7 linked regions of the Homo sapiens genome follow. The protein of the gene in region 3 purifies or fractionates together with the protein of the main gene of each other region. This does not show direct contact. Each region holds a gene or a part of one and is shown on either strand. Other genes may lie near its edges.

Region 1 (3,500 bases), on a different chromosome or scaffold from region 3:
AGCCCCTCAGAGCACTCACTAGGCAGCTGAGTCGTTGAGCTGGTATTCCCTTGAGCGGCCAAAGCAGGCCTGCACACCATGGTCAGCCCAGAGCCTCCGGATGACGCCGGACAGGTCATCAGGGAGCACGCCTTGCTCCTCGGCGGTGCAGGACAGTGCAAATAGCTGCCTGGCGTCGTCCTGGGCACAGTGGCGGGTGGTCAGGCAGTTGAAGGAATGTACCCCCACTCTGCCAGAGGCAGGGAGACCTCTGGAATGGGGCCCAGGCTAGGGTATTCTTGGATTCCCTAGGATGAGACTTGCCCTAAAACCTTTTTGTTGTTGTTGTTTACTTTTTTCTGTGACGGAGTCTAGCTCTGTCACCAAGGCTAGAGTGCAATGGGGCGATCTTGGCTCACTGCATCCTCTGCCTCCCGGGTTCAAGCAATTCTCCTGCTTCAGCCTCCCAAGTAGCTGGGATTACAGGCACGTGCCACCATGCTCGGCTAATTTTTGTATTTTTAGTAGAGACGCGGTTTCACCAAGTTGGCCAGGCTGGTCCTGACCTCAGGTGATCCACCCGCCTCGGCGTCCCAAAGTGCTGGGATTTATAGGCATGAGCCACCACAACCAGCCACCCCGAAACCTTTTGGGAGGTGGGAGAGGGTGGGGCGGAGGGCACATACCGCTCTGGAGGGGTCGGCAAAGTCGATCTGCAGGTTGCCCATGGCTTTGACAATGGCCATGATGGACTGGATGGTGTTGCTGTAGACAACCGCCCGGTACTGCCGGCATTCCTCCTCGGAGTAGCCATCCTCGTGGATGATCCTGATAGCCAGGGACCAGGAAGGTTAGTGTCCCCTGGGCACTGGGAGTTCCCACGGCTGCCTGGGGCTACTGGGACCTGCTTCAGAGAAGGGAAAACTGCCCCTGACCCACTGGGACCTGAGGGTCCTTCTGCTTCTCAGAAGATTCTGGGCCTGGCTAAGACTGGCTGGGCCTGTAGTCGGGGGCAGTGCAGGCCCAGAGGGTGAAGAGGGGAAGCTGGAGTTTGAGCACTGCCTCTGGAATACAGCACTTACTTCATCTGCTTGACGATGGTGCTCTTCCCTGACTCCCCAGCACCTGGAACAGAGGGCACAGGTGGTCAGGGGGCAGGCCCAGAGGGGCTCCACAGGCACAGAACAAATGCCCAGACACCTGTAGCCCAGGAGGCAGAACTAACCTTCCCACCAGCTGCACCGTGAGATGGAGGCAGCTGGGCCTGGTGGGCAGTTGAGCTACCAGGAATGCAGCTGGCAGGGCCACAGTGGTCAAGGTAACCTAGAGCACCTGTGCCCCATGGCAGACTCTCTGCAGGCCTTTGCCTCCCACAAGCTCTGCTGCCCACCATGGCTCCCCACTGTCCTGGGGGGTCTTGGCTGGAGACTTGGCCAGCCATGAAGGAGCCACCCTGTTCTCACATACATAGGCTCGCCAACCTGTGCAGCTGGTGCATGCCAATATGGTGCCCTGGGCAGAGCTGGCAGGAAGATGCCCTGCATACTCCATCCAACAGGGTAGCAGCCCTTCTTCTCCCCACACTGAGCCTTAGCAACCAGGGGCCTAAGCAGGAGCACAGCGTCACACTTCAGCTTTCTGGACATGGCCCAATGCCCCGCCCTCTGCTCACTGCGCTCAGGTCTGCCCTGAGCAGATGGAGGCTAGAAGGCTAGAATCTAGGAGACCTACAGTGTAACACACACGCGTACTGACTCATGAATCTGGGAGACCTGCGGCGTATCTCACACACCCACACCCACACACGCCCATACTGACTCAAGCTTTTCCCTGGCCTGGTACAGCCCTGGCCCATATTTCTCTTTAGCTGGTACTGAGATTTGCTGCATTCTCTCCTGTATTAGTCACAGCAGATACTGTTTCTGTTCCCATTCTACAGATGAGGACATTGAGGCTCAGAAAAATAAAGTATTGATCTAAGATCATGTAGCCAGGACTCAGAAGGGCAAGAGGGTGGAGGGAACCCATGATGCCTGGTCCACCCTGCCATTCTCAAAATGTGGCTGAGACCCTGCGGGACAATGCCTTGGGGAGGTGTTTAAAAAAGCAGATTCCGCCGGGAGTGGTGGCTCATGCCTGTAATCCCAGCACTTTGGGAGGCTGAGGCAGGTGGATCACCTGAGGTCAGGAGTTCGAGACCAGCCTGGCCAACATGTTGAAACCCCATCTCTTCTAAAAATAACAAAAACTAGCCAGGCGTGGTGGCAGGTGCCTGTAATCCCAGCGGCTCGGGAGGCTGAGGCAGAAGAATCGCTTGAACCTGGGAGGTGGAGGTTGCAGTGAGCCGAGATTGTGCCATTGCGCTCCAGCCTGGGCAACAAGAGCGAAACTTGGTCTAAAAAAAAAAAAAAAAAGCAGACTCCCAGGTCCCATCCCAGACAACAGAGCCAGATCTTGAGGAGTGCAGCCCAGGAGCCTGTATTACCCAGGGAGTCTGTGTAAAGAAGGACCAGGGGGGCCACCCAACTCCCTGGCTGGGGGCCAGAGGGAGTGGAGGCAGGGCCTCACCTTGACCTTGCTCCCTTGCTGCTGGCTTGTCTTGAGCTCCAGGTTGAATGGCCCCCAGCTGGGCCCTGCTGTCCTTCCCAGACCCTGTGCTCCTGCTCCATCACTGCCAGTCACACCTGCAGCTGCCAGGCACTACCTCTAGCTATCTCCAGGGCCCTGCTCATGCTGTTCTCTTTGCCGGGAATACGTGCCCCATGCCCCATTCACAGTGTCCCAATTCTGATCACTGTGGCACGTTTGTTCCTCTGTGCAGCTTAGCTGGGTGGGTAGTAAGGTCTGTGCAGAGGTCAAACTTGGGTACTCTGGCCAAGCTCAACAGCATCCCTTGGGGCTGGTCAAAACAACCTCAGAGGATGAAGGTGCTAACACACAAACGAACACAAGCAGTAACAATAACATCGGCAATATCGACAGCAAAGCTATATGAAAACAGCGCCCACCATGTGCCAGATGCTGCTCTACATCAATGACACCCACCAACTGCCATCTCCACAGCAATCCTGGGAGGTAGGTTCCATTCTCACCCCAATCTAACCAGTGAAGGAACTGAGGTCCAGGGAGGCTGAGGTCACAGGGTTAGAGTCCCCTCTGCAGGGAGCACACTTGCCCACCGTGCAGTCCCTCCTAGAGCTGTCCTAAGTACCTGGTACTGCAGCGGAGCCACACAGTCCACCTGGCACTGGGTTCACTCCCTAGCTCCCCAGGCAGACTCTGGGCCATGTCTGCAGTGCTCAACAAGCGGCAGCAGGCATTGGGACATGGTGGCAGGCCTTGCCAAGGCCCCTGCCCACCTTCAGCCCCCTACGCCAGAGACCACCCTGAGGGGAAAGGCCTGAGCCCTCCTCACAAATGCCATCAGGCGCCTGCAATCACTGAGCTTCTGACTGTCCCAGGCCTGCTTTCCAGGATGAGGGGAGGGGATCTGGGGAGATGGGGAGTGACAGCTAGTTGGG
Region 2 (3,500 bases), on a different chromosome or scaffold from region 3:
GCGGATGCCAGCTCAGCTGTGGGCTTCTGCTCCTCCCTCCGCCTTCTCCCCAACCAGGTGTCAGGGCCCTGGGGGCCAGGAGGGCAAGTGCCTCAAGCAGGCAGGGGGTCAAGGGATAGTGCGCGCTGCGGGGCGCATGAACATCCCCACTCTGGCCATGGCGGGCTTCTAGCCTGACAGCCTCCCTTCCCCACCAGCTGGGCTGGGGGACAGGTGCCCCTGCCCCATCTCAGGGGCTGATCTGAGGGACCACAGAGCTACTTCCTCCGGCTCAGGCCAGGCCAGCCTGGCCCCCTCTGGTTGTACCAGCCCTGAGCTAGGAACAAGGAAAACAGGAAAATGATCCCAAACCCACAGCCCCACCTGAGCAGGAGGCCACCAAACACAGGTCTGTCTGCAAAACTCAGGATCCAATACAGAGCCCAGGCGCCAGCCAGGCCCCTGCCCCACTGGGCGGAGGGGCAGGCAGGTATGGCCAGCCCAGCAGTCCCCAGAGACCCCACAAGGCCAGTGGCTCAGTTCTGCTGGAATCAGTCTCACAGACACAACCTCCTCCTACCCTTGGAATCTTCTAGAAGCTGTTTGCCCCCCTCTACCCACTCTGTTTCCGTCTCTGTCCTCCTAGGCCCAGCTCACCTTCCCCTCCTTCCCCTCTAGCCCCGCCCCCTCCTCTCACCCCTGCAGGCCTGGACCCAGGCTCAGGGCCCTCCCTGCTATGCTGTGGGCTCTGCCTGGGGGGATAAGAGTAGCCTGTTCTGAGCCCTCCTTTGTGTCAGAACTGAGAAGGGTTTTCACCTCCAAGGCCACCCTCCCTTTCTGCCCTAACAATAGCCCCAAGGAGAAGGGATCGGTCTCCCTGCTGAAGGAAGCCAGCGCTGGGGGCTCAGAAACCCAAAATGCAGTCTGATGTGAACTGACGCAGCCGCAGGTCTCCCTGACCTCCCCCTTCTGCCTCTCGACCCTCTGCCTCCTCCAAGCTCAGGATGCAGCTGCTCCCTGAAGCCCCCGAATCTGCCTAAAGCCCATAGCTGCTGGAGAAAGGAACAGTGACGGCCAGTCCCCTCCCTGAGTTTCCATGCACTGAGGTCATCGTAGGAAGAAAGACCTGTGTCTGCCAACACACTTGGGCAGGTGGTCACCAGGGCTAACAGATGCTGTCCAAGCCCATTGAATCCCCTAAAAACCATTCATGGCCGTGCACAGTGGCTCGCGCCTGTAATCCCAGCACTTTGGGAAGCAGAGGCGGGTGGATCACCAGAGGCCAGGAGTTCGAGACCAGGCTGGCCAACATGGTGAAACCCCGTCTCTACTAAAAATACAAAAAACAGCTGGGCGTGGTGGTGGGTGCCTGTAATCCCAGCTACTCAGGAGGCTGAGGCAGGAAAATTGCTTGAACCTGGGAGGCAGAGGTTGCAGCGAGCCAAGATTGTGCCACTGCGCTCCAGCCTGGGCAACAGAATGAGACTCTGTCTCAAAAAAAAAAAAAAAAAAAATTCCTACCCCCCTAGAATCATCCAGGCTGCCCATGCCCCTTTCCCTGGGAGGAGGGCAGGTCAGCATCTTCGCCCTACCTCTCCATGCCTATTCACAATGAATGCCAGCACCTCTGCCCTATTAATCCGCTTTTCGCAAGTGGATTCTTCCAAGAACCTTCATGGGACGGAGGGGAAGTCTTCCCTGGGCCGCTATATCAGAATGTCTCATCTCAAAATCTGCCTCTTAGATGTGGATGTTTCTGAGCTAAAGCCCACTAGGCAGCAGATTCAGGGAAGCTCTCAGCCTTGCCTCCCTTTGAGAGGAAAGCAGCACACAGCATCCCAAGACTAAGGCTCCTCCTGTTACCGCCTGGACAGGATGTAAATGCCCCTCACAGCCCTCAGGACCCAGAGACAGCCCCAGGACCCGCGCCCACCCACTTCATTCTTTTTCCCATAAACTCACCCTCCTGCATTCCCCCACCTCCGAGGGCCTCACGCTGCGTCCCTGTACCCCTCGGCTTCTCCATGTGCACTGGTCTCTGCTGGGCTCTGCAGAAGCCAGGACTCTAGGCACGGCAAAGTGCCTCTTCTCCCCTTTTCCAGGACACGCCCTGCACCGATGAACCTGTTTTCTGTCTTTTGCCACAGGAGTCTTTCCCAACCACAAATGTGTGGGGGTTCCGGAAAACCCTAATTTCTCCCCTTTGCCACTTAGAAGAAGAAACTGAAGGTCGAGCAGGTGGCAGGAGGGGTTTGTACGGACACAGCCCAGCCTGCCTAGAGAGGCCCCCACACCCAGCTCCCCAGGGCTCTGAGACCTGCTTCCTAATCCAATACTGGCAGGGCCCCAGCCTGGCCACAGGGAGAGGACGGGCCAGCACAGACTGCCCACTCACTCATTCATTCACACAGTCCTGCAGAGGGAGGGCTGGACAGGCTGCTGTTCCCTGGGGCCAAGATGGGGGAACTGAGACCCAGGGCGGTGAGTGGTCAGCAGCGAGCAGTGAGCAGTGAGGGGGGTGGGGCTGAGTGCCTGGGGCTGCAGAGCTGGGGTTGCTACATTTTATATAAACAGCTACATATTACATAAAAAGTGGCAACAAAATAACAAAAGACCTTGTCTTGTGGAATGTGGAAAACCACCTGACAAGGCAAGAATGCAGCCTGTGAGTGCGTGGTGTGGCCCAAGTGTGTGAATGCGCCTGTGTGTGCACATGTGTGAGCGCAAGTGTGGGTGTGTAAATACCCAGGACGGAGGGCGAGCCCCAAATCTCCCACGGGGACTGGGGCTGAGGCAGTAGGGCATCCGCTGCTCCTGCGGGGACACAATGAACATAGACACAGCAGAGCTGCTGCCAGCGGCTGCCCCCCGGGTCTGGGTGGTGAGGCAGGAGGCTGGGGAGGACAAGGGCAGAGGCGGTGAGGTCCCTGGCCCCCACTCACAGAGGCCTCGGGGCGGGACAAGGGCCAGGCTGGGGGACACCAGGCAGGGGTGTGGTGGGTGGGGCCTGGCCCGTCAGCGATCACTGTAGGCAGGGCCTCGACTCCTTGTCCACCCAGCTCCTTCCCTGCCCCCAGGCCCGTGCTCTGCAGCCTCTGAGCCTCCAGCCGGGCTGAGTCCCAAGGCAGTAGGTCTTCTTTCTGCAGATGCCTTTGGCCTGGCCCCAAGCTCCCCCTCACACTCCCCAAGACCACATACCCATCAGCTCCTCCAGGCCAGGACCACCCCGTCTCCCAGTGTGACCCACACAGAACACACCTCGGCATGCGCCTCAGGAGGTCCCCACTCCCTGCACACACACAGCCCACCTTGGCCTTACCTCGTAGATGAGGAAGACTTTGGCACCCACATAAATGCCCATGCGCGTCACAGCCCGGACAGCAGCGTTCATGCCTGTGGAGGTCAGGGCAAACCTGTCAGTCCCACGCTGAGAAGCAAGGCCCTGGACACCCTCCCCATCTCAGAGGACAGGGGGTAGGGGAGGCCTGGACACCCTGTCCATCTCAGAGGGCGGGTGGTGG
Region 3 (2,685 bases):
AGAGAGGGCAAGTGTGTGTCAGCTAAACAGACTGTAGCCCCAGGACCACAGCAGCCCCAAGCCAAGTCACCACATCCCCAGGATCCTCCAGCCCCAGGACTGTGGTCATCCCAAGAGCCCCAGGGGCCCTAGGTCTCTTGAGACTTTTTTCTGTTAGAGCTGGGCTTCAGGACAGGCACCCGCCTTACCCCCAGACTCAGGCCCCCAAAGCCCAACAGCACCCACTACTGACCCACACAGGCCTGACTGGACGTGAGGGTCTTGCAGCCACTGCTTTCTGGAGGTACGGGCAGCCCCTCAGGGGCGGTGCCATAGAGTACGAGGGTGAACTTGGTCAGCGTCCCTGTTCCAGAGCGGGGAGGAGGCAAGAGTTAAGACAGTGCTGGCACCACACCCAGTGCTCGAGATCCTGCCAGCCCTCCACCTCGTACCCCTACCCCTCAAGTGCCCCCAGTACCATAGTTGTTGGCTTCGCTGGTGTTTTCAATCTCTAGGACCCACTCGCCAGAGGGATCCTCATCCCAGGAATGAGTTGTCATGAAGGCCCAGTCATTAAACCCATCTGCGGAGTAGTCATGTGGCCTGGGGAGGGGAGTGCACACAGCCCTGAGGCCTCTGCGGGACCCCAAGCCAGGGACATCTAACCCACAGCACATGGGCCACACACCCTTCCCCCACGCAGACCAACCCCATGGGGCCAGAAGTGCCTGCTGGCTTGGCTGTTTCTCAGTGAGCCAGACGTGCTCAACTGGGGGATTCTAGAAAGGTACACAGGCACCGCACAAGGTGGGGCACACTACTGACATTAAATGGTTGCAAGCCAGGGATTCCTGCAACATGGGACAGTCCCACAGGACAAAATTGTCCCTCCCAAAATGCCAAGAGTGCCCCACTGAGTAGCACTCAGTGCCCCCTGGGCCGTGTGAGCGAGCAAAGGCAAGCACGCGGGCTGTGAGAGGCGGCGGCGCTGGGCAGGGCGGGCAGGGACAGAGCAAGCACCTGGCTGCCAGCAGGGTGGAGCGGGTGCCCATGGGGCTGACCAGGTGGATGGCCAGGTCGCCACGGCGATTATAGGACAGGGTGAGCCGCGCCTGAGCGTGCTCCAGCCGAGTGATGTGGTTGGGCTCGCCCAGGCACGCGGTCACGGTCTTCCGCACCTCGAGCCGTTTCCCGATGTCTCTGTGCAGGAGAGCACCATGATGGTCAGCCTGGCCCAGAGGGACCAGCGGGCACCCCCTGCGACTCTCAGGTCCCACTGGCCCCCTCCCAGCCTGGGTCCAGCCCTCACTTGGGCTCGGTGAGGATGTCGATGATGCACTTCCGCTGGGGGGCCACTGTGGTCCAATTCTGGGCCAGGGCCACCATGGCGCCTGCGTCCAAAAGCCCGTAGCCATATGAGTGGCTCACTGTGGGGACAGGGAAGGTAGGGTCAGCTGTCAGGCACAGAGTGCCTTCTACCTAACTCCACATCCAGCCTGCCGGGCCAGCCTGCCCTCACCTTTCCGGCCCACACCATTGGTGGCCCAGTCGTTGGCATTGAGGTGGGCTGGCTTCGAGGTCTGTACCACCAGGTGTTGCATGTCCCGCCATGTGAGGTTCTTACTGCAAAGAAGGAAGGGAGAGGCTGGGGATCAGTCTTTTTTGGGAGCAGCTCTCCAGCTGCCCTAAGGGCTGCCCTACAGAGAGTGCTGGTAGGGACAGGGTTGCCGCTGGCCCCCACCCACTTACTTGGCCTCCAGGGTGAGAGCAATGATGCCGGCTGCTAAGGGGGCAGAGGCTGAGGTGCCCGTGTGAGACTCCGTGCACTTCTGCCGCAAGTCAGTCGTCACCTGCCAGGAAGAGAATCATATTGGGGCCTGTGATGGGTGGAGGGGGCTAGAGGAGCCACCTGCCTACCCTCCCTCTGCATACAGGCCCTGGGCACCACAGATGGTATGGGGAGCCAGGGCCAAGAACCCCAGGTCCCAGCTGCTGCCTTGCTAACTTGCCGTGGACATGCTAATGACGAGCCCCTCCTGGGCCTCATTTTCCAAAGGAATAAGGGGGTTCAACTAGAGGGTGGAGATGAATAAGAACAAAGTATGTTTTTAGAGAGAGTCTAGGCTTTTCAAAGTCTTCAGAGATGGCTCCATGGCCTCCAAGAACCTACAGAGCCCCAGAGTTCATGTTGCATGATGCCTGAGCCACTATCACCCAGCCACATGGGGGTGGAGGCAGACAGCCTCCAAAAGAGGGTGCTGGACAGAGCCAGCCAGCAGCCCCATCTCCCCAGCCCCCACCCCCAGGTAAGACTCACGATCTGCTTCTCATTCTGGTTGCCACTGCTGTAGGTCGTGGCCAGTGTGGACGAGCAGGCCTCGCTGTACCACGGCACGTTGCCAAACTGCGTGGCGCTGCTGATGGACAGCGTGTAGATACTGTTGGTGTAGCCGTCGCAGTTGCAGCTGTCATGTTCCCGGCCCCCGTTCCCCGAGGCCCAGACAAAGATGGAGCCCAGCCCCCCTCGGCCCTGTGGACAGAGTGGGCTGGGGTCATTCAAGATTGGGACTTGAGGGAGGGCTGGCAGGAGGACACTGCTGGAAAACTGGGAAGGCTGGAGCCTCATTCTCTGGGAACCTCCTGTCCCCTGTGAGATCCCTGGTGGATCAAGTATGTATCCAAATATGTCTATCTAGGCACACAAAA
Region 4 (3,500 bases), on a different chromosome or scaffold from region 3:
GACCTCGTGATCCGCCCACCTCAGCCTCCCAAAGTGCTGGGATTACAGGTATGAGCCACCGTACCCGGCCTATCTTTCTAATTCTTTTTAAAAAGAAATTATGCCTCCTGATCAACCATAATCAAGTTTTAAAATGGGGAGCCAGAATCCAGTGTTCTATTACAGAGCTCCAAAGGTTAAGGTGCAGGTTCTCTATTAAGCTTACTATCTGAGAGTAAAAATCAAACTCATGTTAATGCACTGTAAATAGTTTTGATTCATATCATTTATGCTTGATTTAATAATAGTTTGCTGGTCAAAGGATAAGCAATTCATCAGAAAAACATTTAAAGAGTTAAGCTTCATCTAGTTCATTTTTTAGACATCTTGTCTTTGGCTGAATTTAATAATCTTACTGACATTATCATCATTTAACTGCTAAAGGAGAACAAAAGTTAAATCAAGCAAAAATCTTACCAAATTTTCATTTACAATTCCATCACTGGCTGCAAAAAAGGCTAAGATGTGAGAGATGAAGTACTTCTCATCTGCTTTAAGCTTGTTCCAGTGAGGGAGATCCTTTGATAAGTCGACCTGGAATAAAAAGATTTTCAAAAATTTTAATTTGGAGTTAAGTTCTTCTCAAAGTGTTTGGGAAACTAACTTCTATTGTTAAGTAGGAATATCCCACTACCAGTAAACTATGGAAAAAGAAAGATGTTAGCACTGCAAAGAAATAAAAAAAAAAGTTATGTTAACAAGTGTATTATATTCAGGATTTTTGTTAAATGAGTAGATTACAGCTATTCTTGGTGGGGGGGTGAACAGCTAAACTATGTGAGGCAAAGGAAATATTAATTTGTTACATAATGGGTAACCATTTTATTATATATATATATATATAACATCATGTCATACACCTTAAACATACACAATAAAATTTATCTTTAAAAAATTAAGATGGAATCGAATTTTCTGGCTAATTAAGAAGCTGGCCAGGATGTACTTTAAAAATATTCAAATTAACATAATCTAGTGGCACTGAAGCAAATGAAAGAAGGGCTAAAAGGGGAGGGGGGAGAGTAAAAACTAGTCAAGAAGGCACTGAAGTAAATAAACTAATGAATCTCAACAGTCACTGCTTTAACATTTTATATAATATGTGCTATGGTGTTAGATAATTAGGCACCTATTAACCAACTGTAGCTGCTACTTTACTGCCAGGTAATCAGTCTACTTTTACATCCAGAAGTAATGCCAGGCAGGTAACAACCTGAGTTTTGTTTTGTTTTGAGATGAAGTCTCGCTCTGTCGCCAGGCTAGAGTGCAGTGGCATGATCTTGGCTCACTGCAACCTTCGCCTCCCAGGTTCAAGCAATCCTCCTGCCTCAGCCTCCCGAGTAGCTGGGACTACAGGCAGGCGCCACCATGCCCAGCTAATTATTTGTATTTTTTAGTAGAGACGGAGTTTCACCATGTTGGCCAGGATGGTCTCAATCTCTTGACCTCATGATCTGTTTGCCTCGGCCTCCCAAAGTGCTGGGATTACAGGCACGAGCCACCACAGCTGGCCTTGTTTTGTTTTTTTAAAGAGATGGGGTCTCACTATGTTGCCCAGGCTGGTCTCAATCTCCTGGCCTCAAGCAATCCTCCTACCTCAGCCTCTCAAAGTGTTGGGATTACAGGTGTGAGCCATCACAGGTGGCCAACAACCCAGTTTTTTTTTTAAAGCAGTTTATACATAGGTATGGCTTCCATTGGGAATGGAAATATTTTTGAAAATGTTCATTAGAATTAGTCTTTGGAATTAAGGGAGACGTACTTTAGAATTTGGTGAAACCTACAATTTAAAAATTGTTTATTTTTTTAATTTTTGAGATGGGGTTTCACTCCGTCACCCAGTCTGGAGTGCGGTGGCACAATCTCAGCTCACTACAGTCTCTGCCTCCTAGGCTCAAGCAATCCTCCCACCTCAGCCTCCAGAGGCACAGGTGGGACCACAGGCACACAAAACCATGCCTGGCTAATTTTTTGTATTTTTGGTAGTGACAGGGTTTTGCCATATTGCCCAGGCTGGTTTTGAACTCCTGAGCTCAAGTGATCTGCCCGCCTCAACCTCCCAAAGTGCTGGGAGTACAGGCCTGAGCCACTGCACCCAGCCAAAAATTGTCTTTAAATGTACCTTCCCTTAGTCAGTTCTGGGGGCTATAACAAATTACCATTGACTGGGTTGCTTAAACAGCATACTTTTATTTTTCTTTTTGAACATTTCTGGAAGCTGAAAGCCCAAGATCAGGATGTCAGCATGGTTGGGTTATTGGTGAAGGCCCTCTTACTGATTTACAGATGGCCACCTTCTTGCTGTATCCTGACATAGCAGAGAGAGAGAGATCATATCTCTCATGTCTCTTAAGGGCACTAATCCTATTCATGAGGGCTCCACCCACATGACCTAATTACCTCCCAAGGCTCCACCTCCAAATACCATCACACAGCATATATAGACATCATTTTGATAGGGACAGGAGGCAGGGAAATTCTGGGCAGAAGAAGATGGTCCCCAGCGAGGACTCCACCCTCAATCCTGGAACTGCAGCCCAAAGTGACATGTATTCCTGTTTTCCCACTATAATGTTGCCCTTTCCAAAACCACCCATGGCCCCACTCCCCTACCCTGTGCCCATAAAAACCCCAGGCTCTACCAGCAGAGAAGAGGAGAGGAGAAGAGGAGAAGCAGCTGGATGTCAGAGACTACGGTTGGATGTCGGAGAGAAGCAGCTTAACTTCAGAGGGACAGCTTGACAGCATTCCTTTGGAGAGGAGTCAGCTGGGGACGGCCAGACAGACTCCAGGAGAAGATTATTTTTCCACTCCATCCCCTTTCCAGCTCCTCTTCCCACTGAGAGCCACTTTCATTGGCAACAAAATCCTCTGTATTCACCACCCTTCGATTTGTTCATGTGATCTGATTTTTCCTGGATGCTGAACAAGAGCGTGGGTGCCACAGGTGTGGATGCTAAAAGCTGTCACACTGACCCTCTGCCCTCACTGGTGGAGACCAACTGCCCCATGTGAAAAGGCAGAGGGCCCACTGAGCCGTTAAAACTTAAGCCATCTGCGGACAGCAAAAGCTAAAAGAGAGTTAACTATAACACATTCCTTCTGGGGCTTCAAGGGTTGTGGGTACTCCTCACAGATGCTGCCATGAGGCCTGCATGGAGTTTTGCTCCTGCCGGTGCCCAAAAGAATTCACCCAAGCTCCTGCACCTGCTCACCTGCATGCTCCCTCCCTCAAGGGGCTGAGCGCAATGGGTTCAAGTGAGTGGAGTTTGCCCCTGCCAGCGCCAAAGCAGCCAGCTAGCTCCAGCATGCGCATTCCAGTTCCCACCCACGAAGGGATCGGAGAAACTATCCTGCTTCAATTTTGTCAGAAAAAATCTTTTAAATATTTTTCATAATTAACTTCATGAACAGTTGAAATATGTAATTGTCTTTGTCTTTTGCCTTTCTTTTATTTACTC
Region 5 (3,500 bases), on a different chromosome or scaffold from region 3:
CCGAGCGCCACAGCCTGCACCAGAGGGACTCTGACGGAGGGCTTTCATTTTCACCCTTTGGTTGGGATTTATAGAAACAAATGGAGACTCCTTTCGAGCATGGTGCTTCAGGAAGGGAGGGGACGAGAGCCCTGGGCTTGTGGTGTCCACGTGGACAGCTAATGAGGAGCCTTGCCGATGAGGAGCATGCGTTCCCGACGGGGCGGCCGAATGCGGAAGGAGCCGCCATTCTCTCCGCCCTGACCGCGGGATTCTCTGCAGCAGATGAGAAACGGCGCTGACTCAGCAGGGTCCCTCCCAGGCCCCGAGCGGTCATCTGGTGACCCCCGCGCTTCCCCCACGGCCCAGCCGGAGAAGGGCAAAGGGAAGTCCCGGCTCCAAGGCGCACCCAGAGATGCGGTGCATGTGGCAGGATGGCCCAGCCCCGTCGGCAGCCCCAGCTTCCTGCCCCTGGTTTCCTTCCTCCCACGGGCTACAGGCCTCTGATGAGCTTTGGAAAGCAGGAAACACACAGGCTAGTAACTATGAATGGGTCCAAAAAACACTCCTTATTACTTTAAACTACTTAGGAAGAAGCACAGCGTTGCCAAACGCCAGAGCCCGGGAGCAGCAAAGACCCCACCTCCAGGGCTCACCCTGGCCTTTCCTGGACCTGCCTATGGGCTCGCTGAAGAAGCCTGGCACCCCTTGAGTTCATCCCACAACACGGAAACCCGAGCCAGGCCCCAGAAGCTGACCTGAGGCTGTGGAGAGTTTCAAACACTAAGAACTCCAGGAGCCCCCTCAGCAGCCCACAGCCCAGGGCCCTGCTGTCACCAAGGAACGCCCTCCACACCCCTCAGTGACGGCACAGCCCGGAAGCAACAAAACACGGCGCTCCAAACATGAAGTTGCTCCTGGCCATAATGTGCCTTTTCATTCTCCAAAAGGAAGCTGAGTCTCTACAGCATATTCCAAACACGAGCGCACCTTGCCCAAGAAGGTTCCGGAATATGCCTGCCACTGGCAAGGGAAAATGGGAGGCTGTCTAGGAAATCAGGGCAGCACTCTCTTCTGGTTCCCAGGACAACGTCCTGAGAGCCCACCACGCTGAGACACGGCCCCACGCGCCTTCTTTTCCCCACCTGGGCCAAACCCTCACCCGCCATTCCCAGTGTCAATCCCTCGGCAACTTCTCCTCCCCAGGTTCAAACACCAGCCCCAGTTGGACTGACCCCACTCCTTCACATCCTGCGTGGACTGGCACAGAGAAAGGGAGGAAGAGGCTGAAGCGCCCAGCAAGGTCCCGGGGACCCAGCCCTCCCCCGAGTGTGGACTCCCAGTGCGGGCCCAGCCCCTGCCAGGCTGGAGGTATCTGTGAGCGGCGAGCTCTGAGGGCGCGGCCTCCATGCAGGGTGTACCCTACCCCAGGTGCAGTCAGATCTCCCCCAGAGCCAGCACAGGAGCCACAGAAGCCTGGACCACCCAACGAAAGGACGCGGGCAGCACTCCTGACACCGCTGCTCACAACCGAGAACTCAGAGGCCGCGTGGGGGCCAAACAGTCCCTGCTGCTGGGGGAGGCGGTTTCTAGCCCAGACCACGCATGCCAGGGTTCAGGCACAACTCTCAACAGGGCAGGGTCTGGGGCTCAGAACAGCTTCATGAGAAGCCGCGACAGCTGAAGGAGGCTGAATGACTGATGTATCTGTGTGTCTTCTGAAGAGGGGATTTAGAAAAGTCCATGTCCAAGCAAGACACGCAGGGCAAGGAAGCAGCAAGTGAGAAGGTGACGAAAACGACAAAAACCACCTGCAACCAGCAACAGCAAATAGGACAGGGAAATATACAAACACCAACAAAAAACGACACCTCTCCAGGCTGGCACATGGCACTGGAGGACAGCGGGGAGGGTAAAGCGATCAGCGGCCACCTCCCCAGGCTAACCAACCCGAGGAACCATTACACCGCAAACCTATGCCTGGGTGGGGGCAGATGCCATTCGGAGGAAACCACCCAGCCGTCCCAGGGAAAGTCAGTCTGTGTGCGAGGACGGGACCCAGCCCGGCGCCTCCTGAAGACTGCAGTGTGGAGCTGCTGTCCACTCTGCACAAGGGCCTCGCCTCAGCTCCAGGAGAGTCTCATCTTACCCTCCCCAGGGACGCCTCTCCCAGCGCGGGTCTCCCCACTTCTAAGACGAGCCAGGGCACACTGCAGCTGACGCGGAGCAGCTGGGCCCAGGGGCCTCTGTCCGGAGCTCACGCAGTGGAACCACCGTGTTTGGTGTCAAAGGCATAACCTGAGACACACTTGGTGTTTTGGAATCTTTTTTGTTTCTGGCAGGCAGAAGTGGACTGCGGTCACCCCATGCAGGTAAAGGTTGGAAGCTCAGGCAGGAGTTCCAGGCAGCACAGAAGAGCACCCACCCGGCAATTTTCTTCCAGTCCTTCACATGTAGCCAAACTGGTTTGACTTTTCAGGGACTTTGAATGAATAGACAGCTGGCTATCAGAAATGGGGGCCTCCCCAGCCCTGGGTCACCGGTCTTCTTCCAGGACACAGCCAAGGACTGGAGTTGGGGCCTCTGCTACAGAAACCCTATACAGAGACCTCAGTGAGGAGAAAAGGGTCGCCCTGCAGGCCACAGCTCTGCAGACCCAGGAAGGGGCCCGCCCAGGCACGGTGCCTCCTGGCATCCGGTAGGCATCTTTCAGCCCAAGTTGCATTAGGCCATCTCACTGTGGATCAAACTTAACAGTGAACTTCACTTCCTCAAATAACAACAAGAAAAGACTCTGACAGCACCATTCTCATCAGGAAGGGAGGAGAAGGAATACATCCCCTCCGGTTCTGAGGGCCGAAACGAACGCAGGACTCTCTGTGGCAACATGAAGGGGACTGGGAGGAAGTGGAGGCTGGGAGGCCAGGACCCACGTGTGGACCGTGCAGGTGTTTTTATTTTGTTTGGCCCCCTGGACCCCTAAACACCATTTCCTCTCCCGCCACCTCCTCACTCTGCCGCGGGAGCTGTGAGCCCGGGGGGCAGGATGGCCTTCTGCAGGGAGGACCTAACATCCCAGCCGCACACTGGCTGGAAGGTCCAGAGCCTTCATCACAAGGCCAGAGTTTTCACCAAAACCCACAGGGCCAACTCCTGAGAACACGGATGCTGGAATTTCAACACCCAGGCTGGATGCCCCCAGAATGGAACGTGGAGCCGAGAGGTGCCGAGCCTGTGGCGGGCAGGGAGACAGCGCGGGCCACACAGCCTGTGGGCAGACGGGAAGGTGAGGGATGGCGCCCTCGAAGACAAACAACGTAGAAAATATTCCACACTGAAATGAAGCAGAAAGCGCAGCCTTCTCTCCTGGCTGAAACAGCATTAAAGCAAGAAAGAACTAAGGGAAACAAAACTGCAACCAACAGCATCAGGGGAAGGACACAGCCACTGGGAGAGGAGCCACTGAACTCCAGCAACAGCCCAGGCCTGAGGAGCTTCCTCCATGGAATTCCGAGTTGGGG
Region 6 (3,500 bases), on a different chromosome or scaffold from region 3:
ATGAAGGGCTTTGGGTGGTGGCAGGCGCTCAACACTGGAAACTCTCCTGCAATACAGACCCAGACCCAAAGACTCCTTTTTATCAGGCTGTGCGGGGTCTTTACCTTATTGGCTTCGGCTATTTTCATAGCAGTGTAGCACTCAGCATCTGCCTTTGCCTTCTCCCGGGCCAGAAATGCAGCATCTGAGGGGGAAGGAGTGCAGTGAACTTGGTGAAGTGCTAAAACTGAGTTCTTTGCAGGAAGTGCAGAGGCTATGGGAAGACTCTGTTCTGGTCCCTGGAACTTCGCCCCTGATTGCCTCTGTGACTTGGGGCAGACTGCTTTTTCCTCTGTGTTTTACATGCATTTTCCCCTATTGTACAAGTTGTTGTAAGGATCAACTAAGATGAAAAAGTGTTTTGAAAGCATCTCCCTATGACAAGGACAGCAAGTCTGTGGCTATGGCCCAAACATACATGTTGACAGCACTATGGAAGAAAGCACTGTTAGCCAGAAGCGCTTCCTGTCTTACTTCTTTTGGAGATCCATGTCTGTGTAGCACAGCAGTGGGACCCTGCCTCAAGCTCTAGGCCAGAGCTCTCCACTCCTCCCTCTTGTGCTACATAGCAAAAGCAGGAAAGCTCAAAGGTGGCTCTAAGTACGGTCAGAGGTCGATCCACCCTAAAACTGAATGCCACGAACATAACATAGTTCAGTCCCTCTCCAACTTCAATTCCCTTTTATTTCCATCAATCATTTCAAAAAGGTCCTAATTAACAGTGATTAAGCTGGCGCGATTCTGAGAGAGAATTACACGCCATGGTCCAGACCAACACGTGTTTGGATTAAGACCTATTTAATTCCTCTATGCAAGTCATATTCTTCCCTAATCAGCTCTGAGACTAGCTTTCTGTCAAGCTGATAGAAAATTTTTGATATTTACCTCCTTGTCTTGGGAACGGGCCAGCCTCATGTGAGTAATATATGTAGCAACATGCCTGGGAGAAAGGTTAGTCTGTGGGTGGGTTTTCACTGAGTGCCCTCAGTGTGACCCCGCGTGGAAGGAACCTGCAGTCCAGCCAGGGTTCTGGCTGCTGTGGGGCCCCCTCAGCTGGCCTGAGCACTTGATGACATGTATTTGTGAGAAATAAAAACGTGTTGCTTTGCTAAGAGCTCCCTAATGAGGAGCCACTGATCTGTGAAATCCTAACTGGCTCCTCTATGGGCCCCTGCAAAGCCTGACAGGCCCAATAATGAGTATAATTAGACATAACACTTTGTAGCCTGAAGCTGGGCCTTGAGGTCCCAGTTGTGCCTTGGAATTTGCTTGAAATAAGCCACCCCAAGAAGTAAGAGGTGGGCAGTGGGAAGGAGGTGCAGGCTTAGAAGCAGGAACAGAAGGTGAATGATATTCAGAAAAGCCAGCAAAGAAAACCTTTCTCTCCAGCTCCTGTCTGACAGGTGCTGAAAATCTGTCTTCTTCAAACCTGGCTTAATATCTGCATAGACCTGGAGAACAGACTTTGAGCCCAAAACCGTGGCACTGACCAACTTTGGAGCAGAAGTAGCTAAGGCAAGGGGGAGAGCCAACTGCTGAGAGTACACTCCCACCGCTCCAAGGCCCTGCTAGCCTGGGAACTCCAAGAAAGCAGGGTCTACGGGACTTCCTTTTTCTCATGCCTAACAAAATCCTGGGCACATACTGGCACTCCAGCCACATTTGCTGAATGAACAAATGCTCTCTGAAGTAGAAAACAGATGCTAGCCTGGCCACAATAGCCTCAAAACTCAAGTCTCCACATGGAGAAAAGCTGCTGTTGCACAGAGATCATGACATCCTTGAGCACAGTTAAAGGGCAAAGGCAATGGCTCCCCAACCCACTGGCCACAGGGCGGGGTCTGAGGAGGACTCAGGCATGACTGCCACTTCTGCTTACCTTCAATTTCTGAAATCTTCTTCTCAGTCTCCTTCTCCATCACCTTCTGCCCGTAGGTGATCTCAGCCACCTGGGCCACTTTTTCTGCCTCTGAATAAATGATAGTGAGGATTACGGTTCTGGCATTTCAGAGTTTGACTAATTTCACCTTTCACCCGAGCTGAGTGTCCTGGTGGGCCAGCTTGTCTGGAGAGCCCCCAGAGGGCAGCTGTGAGTGCACACAAGGGCAGAGTGGGATATGCCAGTGAGCACAGTCCCCTTCCATCAGTGTGAGACAGTAACCAAGGAGACCTGGGCCCAACATAGGAAGCATGAGCCCTAACTTCACAAGGGAACTTCTCCCAAAGGAATATTCTGTAAGAATGAAGTACTCTAGTAGGGTTCTACCTGGCCCTTCACTGTAGACAGGGGTCAGGTTAGTTGTTGATAATACGGTGCAGTGACTTAGAACATAGCTTCTAGAGCCAGTGTCCTTGGTTTGAACCCCAGTTCCACCCCTTACTTGCCATATGCCCTTGGGCATGGTATTTTACCCCTCTGTGCTTTGGTTCGATAAAATGAGGTTAAGGATAATACAGTACCTACCTCCACAGTGGTTGTGAGGGTTGACTTAACCCACATATTAAGTGGTTAGAAAAGTATGTGGCTCACAGTAATTGCTTAATTAAGTATTAGCCATTATTATTAAGAATTAACAGGCTGGGCACGGTGGCTCACGTCTGTAATCCCAGCACTTTGGGAGGCTGAGGTGGGCAGATCATGAGGTCAAGTGTTCGAGGCCAGCTTGGCCAACATGGTGACACCCCATCTCTACTAAAAATACAAAAATTAGCCAGGCGTGCCGGCACCCGCTGTAATCCCAGCTACTCAGGAGGCTGAGACAGGAGAATCACTTGAACCTGAGGCAGAGGCTGCAGTAAGCTGAGATCGTGCCACTGCATTCTAGCCTGGGTGACAGAGCAAGACTCCGTCTCAAAAGAAAAAAAAAAGAAAGAATTAACAGGTGGGGCTTCTTTCATTTAAGAGTTAAGTGGAAACTCAAAAAACTCATTATCCTTGGCCATGATCTGACAATTTCAACTTTGTTTCTGGGAGTCCACCTGCCACTCCTGTGCTGTGGAAGTGGTTTGGAGGACCATGGGGTCTCACCAGGCCTTAGCCTCCTTGCATCTTCCCACCACCCCCAGCCTTTCTGCCTGGAAAGGGGGATCACAGAACCACATTCAGACCAATGAGCGCCTTCTTCCGCTCTGTCTCTGCTTCCTTTTCCACCACCTTCTGTTTCTGGGCGGCAATGAGAAGCTTTGTCTTCTCACTTTCCCTGAAGAGAAGAAAAAGCCGTGAGGCAGCTATGGAAAACTCAGGAGCTTCACTATCCCCAGGTAAGTCGAATTCTTCTGCTGAAGAGAGGCAAACTCCCATTTCCTACTCCTCCTGGAAGGCTGTTCGATGGCCCAGGTAAAAGCTGATCTGTTGTTGACAGTAACATAGCTCTTCTCCTCCCAAGTAACTCATTTGTGGGAAATAAAACATAATTTAGTAAAATACACCTGCCTGTCCACTTACTGGTCTCTTGCTCCTG
Region 7 (3,500 bases), on a different chromosome or scaffold from region 3:
CCTTTCTCTCCAATTCAGCCAACTCTATTGTGTTTTCCTTACCTGAGGACATTGGGGTGCTGTCAGCCAGACTTGCTTGACATTCTATAACTGAAATCTAAGGCATCCAAGACGTAGTAAGTTTTACATACTTTACCTTTTTGTTTTTGCTGAACCTATTAATATGAATGGGCTGATCAGTTATTATAGCTTCAAAATACTGATTTCCAAAGACTGACAATCCTTTAAAGGAGGAAGGCCGTAAGCAGACAAATCCTACCTTGATCCACAGGCAGTGTCCTGAACTGGACACTGGGACTATATGGCCCGGGCCCTTTGCTCGTATGAGCACGTACTTTTACATCGTATGTGGTATCTGGTTTTAAGCCAGTGAGTGTCATAGTGGTGTCAGCTGGAACAATAAGCTGCTCCATCGGGAGAAGGGGGATGTTGATATCCCTATAAAGAAGGGTATACTTGGTGATAATGCCATTTCTCTCTGCCAGGACAGGTGGTTGCCAAGATAACTGGACGGAGGTTGAAGTGGTGCCTTCTGAGTGAAGGTTTTGAGGGAATCCAGTTGGTACTTCTTCTGGAATGGAAATCTCCTTCACCATCTCCTCCCCAAAGCCCACTTTGTTTCTGGCTGAGAGCCTGAAGACGTATGATGCTCCCTTGTGGATGTCTGTAGCTGTAAAGTGATCTTCTTTTTCAGAGAACTCAAGAGTAGTAAGTGGCTCCATATCCTTGCGGCCAAATTTTAGACGGTAGCCCTGAAGAGGTCCAAATGTGTCCACCGGAGGGTGCCACTGAATAAGAGCAGTATTCATCTGAGTGTGGTTAATCACAAGCCGAGGTTTCCCTGGAACTGGAGCACATGGGATGGAGTGGTAAGACCAACCAATCTGAACGTTCACATTTCAGTCATTGCCAAATGAGGGAGTTCCACTCTACTGGTATTCCCATTTTCTTACTTACCAAAACAAAACAAAACAGGCAATGTTTGACCTACATACCTTTGTGGAAATATGCTCCTTGTCTTACTTTATTAAAGTAGGCTGAGATACTAGAATTTGATAATGGACACAAAACAGAAATTATCATTGAAACAACAGCTTAAGGGGATTTTTTTGACACCTGCACGTTTTAAACCTTCACACATAAAGGTTCATATCAAAGATAAATTAATTTGAGCAAAGATCAGCCAATTAGATATGGCTAATAAGAATAACTATAATGATTATTTATTCGTTGAATATGTGCAATGTACCGGCGTCACGCTAAGTGCATTGCATATAGTATTCACAATTGGTTTACATTCCTGACTCCTCACTACATTCTCGGATTAGTTATTATTATCTCTATCTTCTATAATGAGAAAATGAGGCCCAGAGAGGTAGAAAACTTTCCAAGGCTAGCATGTAACAAGTGAGAAATCTATAAGGCAAACCCACCTCTGTCTGGAGTCGACTGCTTAAATGCTTAATTGTGCTGCTATGTTGCTTAAAAGTTTAAAAAAAAACCAAACTACAAAATAATATCGTATTGACTTACTATGAATTTAATTTGCACTTTCTAACTTTACTATCCACATCATTCATCAAGTTCTTCATCTGTAAAATGGGAATTATATTAAGAGCTATTTTATATTGTTCTTATGAATAATAAATGAGGAAATTCATGTAAAAGTCTTAGCATGAGGTTCTGCATTCTATCAATATTAACCATAATTATTAATAATCTGAATATTAAACTTCTTATGGTGAAAGGCTAGCTTCCAATGAATACATAATTTATTTACCTTTAAGTTAGATATGTGAAAAGGTCTAATCTACTCATTCAATGTATTATTATGTCTGTATTTATTTTTAATGGAGAGCAATTATTATTGGAATCCACAGTGAAAGACATTGAGGGATGATCATCAGAATAAAAACTAAACCAAGTTAACAGAAAGAAGAAGAAAGGCCAAGTATGGTGGCTCATGTCTATAATCCCAGCACTTTGGGAGCTGAGGTGGGAGGACTGCTTGAGCCCAAGAGTTCAAAACCAGCGGCTGGGTGTGGTGGCTCACACCAGTAATCCCAGCACTTTGGGAAGCAGTGGATCACCTGAGGTTGGGAGTTTGAGACCAGCCTGACCAACATGGAGAAACCCTGTCTCTACAAAAAACACAAAAATAGCCAGGTGTGGTGGTGCATGCCTGTAATCCCAGCTACTCGGGAGGCTGAGGCAGGAGCATCACTTGAACCCGGGAGGCAGAGGTTGCAGTGAGCCGAGATCATGCCACTGCACTCCAGCCTGGGCAACAAGAGCAAATTCCGTCTCAAAAACAAACAAACAAACAAACAAACAAACAGCTTGGCAACATAGCAAGACCTTATCTCTACGGGGGGAGGGGGGAAGGCATGGTGTCACATGTCTGTAGTCTTAGCCACTCAGGGGGCTGAGGTGGGAGAATTGCTTGAGCCAAAGAGTTTGAGGCTGCAGTGAGCTATGATCACACCATTGCTGTCCAGCCTGAGTGACAGTGAAACTGTGCCTCAAAATTATGAATGTGAAGAAAAAGAAAGATGGTAGGAAAGGAGGAAAGCTTACAGTAATGGGAAACAGGTGATAAAAAATCATACCATGGGGATATAGATGAAGGTAAAAAAATCACTAAAAAGATTATGAGACAATACATAGAATATTAACCTCAGAGATGGACTGATTAGCCTCTTCATTTTGTATTTCAGAAAGTGAAACCCAAGTGGAGATGTGCTCTGCTCTAAGAAATATCATTAAGATATTTATTTCCTTAACCAATGGAGCAACAGTTTTGTTTCACATGCTGGGAAGATTCATCACATGCTGATATAACTCAGCTAATCTACAATGTATGAAAACAATAGTTTCTAAAGTTTTTAGATAAATAATTATTCAACAACATGTGTGCTGTGTTATACATATAAAACATGTGTGTTGTGTTGTATATATAAAACATGTGTGTTGTGTTGTATATATAAAACATGTGTGTTGAAGGTAGGCCCAGGAACCACATCATTGTGTACTCATTGTGTTCCTCAGGAAAAATGCATCCAGAGATCTTAACGACCAACACACACTCTCAGAACACCACCCATCCATAAGTTGGAAACTGTGTGAACTATTCCACTTGCTTTTAATATATTTACAATTATCTTAATTTTAAAATAGTACTTTAATGTAGGGACATTGGCAGACATCTTTAATTCCCCTTTATGTGTATAGAGCATTTACATGATTTGTCCAAATGTCAGTGATGGTGTCAAGGATTAAACACCTGAGTCTCTGCTGAGAAAAATCCATGGTGAAATAGAGCTTTCAACAGAGAATACAGCCTTCAATATATGAAACTCCGTTGAAACGAGTGGGTGGAAACACAACTATTAATTCTCAATATTCTCCAGAGGCAACAGATTAAACATATTTATTAAAATTTTTTGAAATTCTAGTTCCAACGAACTGCATAATAATATATACACCGTGTATCCTGTTTC

What was found.
Region 1: the proteins of FURIN (region 3) and GNAI2 purify together in Homo sapiens (affinity purification with mass spectrometry, with the first as the bait; one large-scale study listed by BioGRID). This does not show direct contact.
Region 2: the proteins of FURIN (region 3) and PFKL purify together in Homo sapiens (affinity purification with mass spectrometry, with the first as the bait; one large-scale study listed by BioGRID). This does not show direct contact.
Region 4: the proteins of FURIN (region 3) and RRM2B purify together in Homo sapiens (affinity purification with mass spectrometry, with the first as the bait; one large-scale study listed by BioGRID). This does not show direct contact.
Region 5: the proteins of FURIN (region 3) and SLC38A10 purify together in Homo sapiens (affinity purification with mass spectrometry; one large-scale study listed by BioGRID and IntAct). This does not show direct contact.
Region 6: the proteins of FURIN (region 3) and ERLIN2 purify together in Homo sapiens (affinity purification with mass spectrometry, with the first as the bait; one large-scale study listed by BioGRID). This does not show direct contact.
Region 7: the proteins of FURIN (region 3) and PTPRD purify together in Homo sapiens (affinity purification with mass spectrometry; one large-scale study listed by BioGRID and IntAct). This does not show direct contact.

What each region holds. Positions count from the first base shown.
Region 1 is NC_000003.12:50,249,704-50,253,203, reverse strand, and holds part of GNAI2 (guanine nucleotide-binding protein G(i) subunit alpha-2), read right to left. Parts: intron 1,585-3,500; exon of another isoform or gene 1,531-1,584; coding exon of another isoform or gene 1,461-1,530; intron 1,105-1,460; coding exon 1,062-1,104; intron 808-1,061; coding exon 666-807; intron 181-665; coding exon 20-180; intron 1-19. UniProt on the Homo sapiens protein: Guanine nucleotide-binding proteins (G proteins) are involved as modulators or transducers in various transmembrane signaling systems.
Region 2 is NC_000021.9:44,306,553-44,310,052, reverse strand, and holds part of PFKL (ATP-dependent 6-phosphofructokinase, liver type), read right to left. Parts: intron 3,373-3,500; coding exon 3,299-3,372; intron 2,794-3,298; coding exon of another isoform or gene 2,725-2,793; intron 1-2,724. UniProt on the Homo sapiens protein: Catalyzes the phosphorylation of D-fructose 6-phosphate to fructose 1,6-bisphosphate by ATP, the first committing step of glycolysis.
Region 3 is NC_000015.10:90,878,588-90,881,272, reverse strand, and holds part of FURIN (furin isoform 1 preproprotein), read right to left. Parts: intron 2,510-2,685; coding exon 2,297-2,509; intron 1,830-2,296; coding exon 1,729-1,829; intron 1,603-1,728; coding exon 1,499-1,602; intron 1,407-1,498; coding exon 1,289-1,406; intron 1,180-1,288; coding exon 1,000-1,179; intron 583-999; coding exon 458-582; intron 344-457; coding exon 233-343; intron 1-232. UniProt on the Homo sapiens protein: Ubiquitous endoprotease within constitutive secretory pathways capable of cleavage at the RX(K/R)R consensus motif. Mediates processing of TGFB1, an essential step in TGF-beta-1 activation.
Region 4 is NC_000008.11:102,225,462-102,228,961, forward strand, and holds part of RRM2B (ribonucleoside-diphosphate reductase subunit M2 B), read right to left. Parts: intron 574-3,500; coding exon 457-573; intron 1-456.
Region 5 is NC_000017.11:81,285,308-81,288,807, forward strand, and holds part of SLC38A10 (solute carrier family 38 member 10), read right to left. Parts: intron 2,043-3,500; exon of another isoform or gene 2,038-2,042; intron 1-2,037. UniProt on the Homo sapiens protein: Facilitates bidirectional transport of amino acids. May act as a glutamate sensor that regulates glutamate-glutamine cycle and mTOR signaling in the brain. The transport mechanism remains to be elucidated.
Region 6 is NC_000008.11:37,750,134-37,753,633, reverse strand, and holds part of ERLIN2 (erlin-2), read right to left. Parts: intron 3,240-3,500; coding exon 3,148-3,239; intron 2,009-3,147; coding exon 1,919-2,008; intron 185-1,918; coding exon 105-184; intron 1-104. UniProt on the Homo sapiens protein: Component of the ERLIN1/ERLIN2 complex which mediates the endoplasmic reticulum-associated degradation (ERAD) of inositol 1,4,5-trisphosphate receptors (IP3Rs) such as ITPR1.
Region 7 is NC_000009.12:8,485,503-8,489,002, forward strand, and holds part of PTPRD (receptor-type tyrosine-protein phosphatase delta isoform 1 precursor), read right to left. Parts: intron 848-3,500; coding exon 260-847; intron 1-259.